Homo sapiens: one gene and its partner. The protein of the gene in region 1 purifies or fractionates together with the protein of each later gene. This does not show direct contact. Each region holds a gene or a part of one and is shown on either strand. Other genes may lie near its edges.

Evidence for each region. The genes of interacting proteins can lie anywhere in the genome.
Region 2: the proteins of LMNB2 (region 1) and TSEN15 purify together in Homo sapiens (affinity purification with mass spectrometry; one large-scale study listed by BioGRID and IntAct). This does not show direct contact.

The regions. Positions count from the first base shown.
Region 1 is NC_000019.10:2,439,938-2,443,590, reverse strand, and holds part of LMNB2 (lamin-B2), read left to right. Parts: intron 1-3,653. UniProt on the Homo sapiens protein: Lamins are intermediate filament proteins that assemble into a filamentous meshwork, and which constitute the major components of the nuclear lamina, a fibrous layer on the nucleoplasmic side of the inner nuclear membrane.
Region 2 is NC_000001.11:184,054,693-184,058,345, forward strand, and holds part of TSEN15 (tRNA-splicing endonuclease subunit Sen15), read left to right. Parts: intron 1-35; coding exon 36-171; intron 172-3,468; exon of another isoform or gene 3,469-3,548; intron 3,549-3,653. UniProt on the Homo sapiens protein: Non-catalytic subunit of the tRNA-splicing endonuclease complex, a complex responsible for identification and cleavage of the splice sites in pre-tRNA. It cleaves pre-tRNA at the 5' and 3' splice sites to release the intron.

The DNA of each region.
Region 1 (3,653 bases):
TGGGGTGGGTCAGGGTCTTCCCACACTGCTCATTCTCCCAGAGCCACGCAGGCCTGGCTCAGCATGGAGGGATCTGCTGGCAGGAGGGGTGGCACCTCGGCCACCTGGTACGGGGGTGACAGCAGCCAGTGGCTTGAGAATCCACGTTGTCCCTGAGTTGGAGTGTGGCCAGAGGAATGACCGGGGACCCTGTGTCCAACAGTGCCGGGGCCCCCATGCGTGGTTGCAGGTGACCTCTCCATCCGACGCCCTCCTCCTTCCTGGGCTGGCGCTGCTCCCGTGGAGAGCTGACTTCCCTTCCCCAACAGGAGACCCTCCAGGTCAGCCCAGGGACCACCGCCCGCCTGCCCGGGGCCTGGGGCTCCAGGAGGGACCATTTGTGCCCTGATGGTGGCCATGAGCCGGGGACCCTGGGGCCAGGCACCAGCCAGGACAGGCTGCCCACTCTCAGCACATCCCACACAGCACAGGTGCACCCCGGGACCTGCTCAGGCAGCAGCTCTGTGCTGTCTACCTCCAGCACCCACCGTGTTTAATAAGCAGGTTCATCAGTGGAGCCATGCAGGCTGTGGGATGACTAGAGCTTGGTCAGGGGTGCACGGAGCTCTGAAATGTCAGAACTACACCGTGCAGATGGGACAGAGCTGCTGCTGGCCCCGCACCAGGCGCCTCTCAACTGTTCACTTTAAGATGTTGAAATGTACAGGATGTGAATTTCACCTCAAATTAAAACATTAAAAAAAGAAAATGGTACACAGTGCCCGCCCTAGGTGTTGAGGAATTCCCAGTTCACAATCTCCTGAGCAGTGCGTGGCATCTACAGAGAGGCCCGTCTTTTCCTTTTCATTAAGACAGGGTCTCTGTTGCCTAGGCTGGAGCTCAGTGGCACAATCATAGCTCGCTGCAGCCTCGAACTCCCAGGCTCAGGTGATCCTGCCTCAGCCCCACCCCGAGTAGCTGGGACCCCAGGCATGCACCACTACACCCAACTAATTTTTTTTATTTTTTATTTATTTCCTTTTGAGACATAGTCTTGCTCTGTCACCCAGGCTGGAGTGCAGTGGTGCAATCTCGGCTCACTGCAACATCCACCTCCCAAATTCAAACGATTCTCCTGCCTCAGCCTCCTGAATAGTTGGGATTAGAGGCTCACACCACCTTGCCCAGCTAATTTTTTTACCAAGTTGGCCAGGCTGGTCTCAAACTCCTGGACTTAAGCGATCCACCCGCCTTGGCCTCCCAGAGTGCTGGGATTACAGATGTAAACCACCATGCCTGGCCTAATTTTTTTATTATTTGTAGAGATGAGGTCTCGCTATGTTGCTCAAGCTGGTCTTCAACTCCCAGGCTAAAGTGATCCTCCCACCTCAGCCTCCCAAAGCACTGGGTATAGGTATGAGCCACTGGGCCAAGCCTAATGTTTTTCTTATCCTAACAAATTTATCTCCAAAACCCCACAATGAGAGAAACACTGGGAGCAGCGTGCAGGACCTAACAAGCCAGAGCCTGCCACAAAACCCCGGGCACCCAGCTGAAGATTCTAACTCAGCACCTGGCGCTTAGGAAACGGGTCTGAGCCCTGGGAGCCCGCACCCTGCCTTCTGGGTGTGCCCTGCAGTCCTGCGGAACCCTGTGGTTTAGACCGAGTTGCTGAGGAGCTTCCCGGATTCCCCGATCTCCGCTCCAGTCCTCTGAGCTGGTCTGCAGCCTGCCTCTTCCACCTCACCCCTGGGCCTTTGCACTGCTGCTCGCCTGCCTGGAAGGCTCTTTCAGCAGCGGTGGCCCTGGCTCCTCCAGCACTGCTCCTTCAGGTCTCTGCCCCCAGGGTTGTCTCCCAGCCCCACTCCAGCCCTGCCCCCAGGCAACCTCCTGTCTGGTAGGCAGCCTGTGTCGCTGATGCCTCCCTCCGCAAGGACGTCCCGCAGTGTAAGGCAAGGGTTCTAGATGCACCTCTGGTGTGAGAGCGGTGCCTTCCACACAGCGGGCACTCGGGATTTGCCCAACAGATTCCACCTTCCCCCAAACCCCTGCAAAAATCCCCAGCAGGGCCGCAGGGCTCGCAGCCCTCTGAGCGAAAGGGCCTGGCCTGTGTGGCATGTGCTCAGAGATGCGGGATCTGCACCCCAGACCCTGCTGGAGATCTGCTCCATGTGGGGAAGTAGAGCTTAGTGTCCCTGAGGGCTGCGGACAGGGGTGCATCAGCCTTGTGGCCGAAGTCTCTGGCCTTCACGCCTCTCAAAAGCAAGCAGATGCCACACCTCTAGTGTGTGGAGAGCCCTGGCTACACCAGGTCCAGCGCCAGAGCGGCTGGCCGCCCTGCCCTGGCGGGACACAACCGGAGCCAGACCCGGGATTCAGGGTACCCGGCACGGATGCTTTTACCTGGCAGGTGGCCTTAGACCTGGTTGTCTGACCCCCGACCAGGGACCCCTCACACGAGAGACCTGTTTACACAGTGGCTGCCCCGTAGCTCGTGTCTGACCTGTGTCCAGGGTATGCCTGTCCGACCATCGCTCTGGCACTGGGATCCCAGCCTGGGGCAGCTCCTGGTTCTTCTGACAGAAGGCGCAAATTCAGCACAGCGATAGGAAACAAGTTTGAAGATTTATTACGGATCCTAGGCAGGGAGGGCACTGTGAGCTGGGAAGGCAGCCCTCCCTCCCCGGGTCACACAAGGAAGGAAGGAAGAGTCCCACAGAGAGTGAGAGCTTGGCAGCTAGTGAGAGAGAGAGGGAGATGGGTGGATGATGGATGGATGGCTGGATGGGTGGACGGATGATGGATGGATGAGTAGATGGATGGATGATGGATAGATAATGGATAGATAGATGATGGATGGATGAGTGGATAGATGGATGGATGGATGGATGAGTAGATGGATGAATGGATAGATGATTGAGGGATGGATGGAAGGATGGATGGATGGAGATGATGGATAGATGATGGATGGATGAGTAGATGGATGGATGGATGATGGGTGGATGGATAGATGGACAGATGAGTGGATGGATGGATGGATGATGGGTGGATGGATGGATGGATGATGGGTAGATGGATAGACAGTAATAGATAGAGCAATAGATAGATATAGCTATCTGTAAGGCTGGGTGCGGTGGCTCATGCCTGTAATCCCAGCACTTTGGGAGGCCAAGGCGGACAGATCACTTGAGGATGGGAGTTCAAGACCAGGCTAACCAACATGGAGAAACCCCGTCTCTACTAAAAATACAAAATTATCTGGGCGTGCTGGCACTTGCCTGTAATCTCAGCTACTTGGGAGGCTGAGGGAGGAGAATCGCTTGAACCCGGGAGGTGGAGGTTGCAGTGAACCGAGATCGCACCATTGCACTCCAGCCTGGGCAACAAGAGCGAAACTCCATCTCAAAAAAAAAAAAAAAGATACAGCCATCTGTAGAATTGATATATACGGACATAGATTATATAGATAAATACAGTTATTGATGGAGATATACTTAGACAGACATACGGTCACTTTCAGCTATGGGTCACTTTCATTTCTTGGGCAAATGCCTAGGTGGTCTTTTGAAAGGCCCTGGGGGACCAGGCGCAGTGGTTCACGCCTGTAATCCCAGCACTTTGGAGGCCGAGGCGGGCAGATCACCTGAGGTTGGGAGTTCGAGACCAGCCTGGCC
Region 2 (3,653 bases), on another chromosome or scaffold:
TAAACATTATTGTCCATTCAATGATGCTCTTTCAGGCAAAAGCTGGCATGAAGTAAACTGTGTAGGATTACCAGAACTCCAGCTCATCTGCCTTGTTGGTACTGAGATAGAAGGGGAGGGGTTACAGACTGTGGTGCCTACCCCCATCACTGCTTCCCTCAGCCATAACAGGTGAGCAGGTGATTTTGGTCTAAGTTCCTTTCCCGAGTAAAGCAGTAGGAAACATTAAACATAGTGATGTAATACTTTTAATGAAATTTGGGATACAGGGTTCATAGCTTTACTCTTGGCTATTTGAGGAATAAGTTAAATATGAGTGTTGTATTCGGCCATTCTTGCATTGCTATAAAGAAATACCTGAGACTGAGTAATTTCTTAAAAAAAAAAGAAGAGGTTTAAGTGGCTCATAGTTCTGAAGGCTTTACAGTAAGCATGGTGCTGGCATCTACTCGGCTTCTAGGGAGGCCTCAGGAAGCTTATAATCATGGAGGAAGTTCGTGAAGCAAGAGCAGGCACATCATATGGCAAAAGCAGGAGTGAGAGAGAGTGTTGAGGGGGAGGTTCCACACACTTTTAAATGACCAGATCTCACGAGAACTCATTGTCCTGAAGACAGCACTCAGCCATGAAGGATTTACCCCTATAACCCAAACATCTCCCACCAGGCCCCACCTCCAACATTGGGGATTACAGTTCAACATGGGATTTGGGCAGGAACAAATATACAAAGTATATCAAGCATTCAACAAGTATTTATTTAGCACTTACTCTATGGTCAGTACTTTTTCAGAGACAGTATGTATGGTAGAAATATTTATATTCTTGGTAAGGAAGCAAGACCATTACATATGAAATAACAGCTGTTATAAGATGTACCATGTAATACAAATTATACTTTATATAGCAGTTGGTGAAAAGCATGATTAACATGCAAGCTGAAATCAAATTTTCATGTAGCTTTTTTTAAAAGCTTTAAAAAAGAGACTTTTTTTAGGACCTTTTTTTAAAAAGCTTAGGTACACAGCATTGGATTAAACATGTCTTTGTTTCATGACATACTCTCATTATTAGTTCATGCTTGGTTTTTATTTATTTACTTAGTTATTTTTAATAATGTAATAAGTATCTCTGTACCCATCACCCAAAGCAAAACTAGATTCTTGATAATAACTAACATCTAATCTTATAAGTCCCTTCCTTAACGTGCTTTCACTGACCTGAGGTAACTCATTCTGAATTCCATGTACATTGGGAATTTTTAAATTTTAGATGTTTTTAACTTTAATTAAAAAATCTTATCTTTTAAGGCTGACCTTATACACTTAATATTATATTACTAAAATTCATCCATTCTTGTGCATTTTTTGAGCTGCCACATAACATTCCATTGTGTGATTATACCACCATTTTTACATCCACTCCCTCGATGATGGAGTGTTGCTAATGTTTAACTTTAGGAGATAATTTCAAACTATTTTCAAAGTGGTTGCCTCAATTTACTTTTCACCTGCAGTGTAAATAAGATCCTTTGGAGCTGTATTGTCTCTCACATTTAGTATTGTCAGACTTTTAAATTTTTGCCAATGGAATGGATTATTCTTATTTTGGTCTTAATTTACATTTCCCTTATTACTCATAATACTGAATATTTCTTTATATATGTATTATTTATAAGAAATATCTGTTCATATCTTTTGCCTGTTGGGTTGTTTTTAGTTTTCTCATTGACTTGTATGAATTCTTTATATATTCTTGACCTAATAGTTTTTTTATTGTGTTTTCCAGTTTTTAAGTCTGTCTTTCACTGTCTTAAGATGTCTTTCAATGAGTAACAGTTCTTAATTTGAATATAATCATATTTATCCATCTTTTATAATCAACGTCTTTGTGTCTAGTTTAAGAAATATTTTCTATCTAACGGTCTAAAAAATACTTATATTTTCACTAAGAGTTCTATTGTTCTTGTTTTTAATGGTGTGAGAGGCGGTTAGGGATACCATTGTCATGTGGATAACCACTTTTTCTACCTCCATTTACTGAATAGTCCCTCCTTTCCTCACTATCTGACATATCACTTCTGCTACTTTCCAAAGTTCCAAACATGCATTAATTTGTTTCTGGGTTCTCTATTATATTCCATTAGCCAGTTTATCTGTCCTTTTGCCAATACCATATCTCTTAATCGCTTGCTTGGTAAGAAGTCTTGGTATCTGGTTAGCAAGCCTCCCTTATGCATTTCTTCTTTAGAAGCTGTAGCAGGCAGCTTCTAAGATGGCTTCTCCTAATTCTGGTATTCACTCCCTTATGTAACTCTCTTCCCTTGAGTGTGACCTGGACTCAGTGACTTCTTTCTAATGAATAAAATTTGGCAAAAATGATAGGAATGTAACTTCTAAGATTAGGTTACAAAAGACTGTGGCTTCTATCTTGGGCACTCTCTCTTGCTTACTATAAAGGAAGCCAGCTGCCACGTGAGCTGTCCTACAGAAAGTCTGAAAATAGAAAAGAGATGACAATTATTGATGGAGCAAGATTCTTGAGAGATGAGGAAGGATGGATTCAAGAGGATAGTGGAGGAGAGTAATATTGAGCATGTAAAGGGGTGCTGTAAACCTCTGAGAGTGGGGTATGGGAAGAATGAACAAATGAAAACACAGCTCTATTTGGGTGGCATATAAGTAGGGAAAAGAGCAGAGCCTCTTAAATTCCAGCATGAATACCGTTGATGAATACTTAACATTTTTTCTAGCTGACTATGACTGAATACATAGCAGTCTAGTAGAAAGAGCCCCAGACTATAAAGTCTTAAGACCTGGGTTCTAGTCTTGGGACTGACACTTAACATTTTGTTTGATGTTTAGCAACACACCTAATTTCTCTGGGTTTCAGTTTCCTCGTCTTATTTTGTTGTTGAGGGATTTAGATTACCAGTACATGCAAGATCCCTTCTAAATTAAAGCTGCTGTAACTGGTTATTTTCATTGTGCATATTTCATAAAGCCATATTAAACTAAATTTGCAGATTTCTATGAAGTATTTTTTGTATTTATTATTCATAATGAGAATTGTTTTTTAATATGTCAGTCTATTCATATGCTTCTTTGAGAAGCTCCTTACTGTTTTCTCTGTGTTTGAGAATTACAAATAGTTGTTAGCATTGACATCAGATTTAATCGCTAGTACTTTCCGGTTTTTACTAGCATGATTTCCAAGCCATCCTATATCCAAGAGTCTTAATTCATTCCTCAGAACTCATTACTTCTGTCTTTTAATTACTGTAACAAATATTGTCCTAGCTAGTATTAATGTTATATTATTTGTTTGGACAAGGAGCTACTATTTGAAATTAACCTGCATTTATTCCTAAAAAATAAAATTAATGAAAGCAATAGCCTATTTTAATCAAAATCATTTCATAAGTCTAGAAGTACAAATTTGTTTCCATTGTTAATTTCTAGTATTTTCCAGGTGGTAATTAATGCTTTTCTAGCTTGAATGGCTAAAGCTTGTTTTCTTCTTCAAGTAGAATTAGTTGGAATGATAACTTGGTAAGCCATTTTGATGCTGTTGCATTTAATAACTGAGAGAGCTTAAATCTTTATGTCTTGTTTTTATATAAATATTCTTAACTATATTATACAGTAGAATACTAA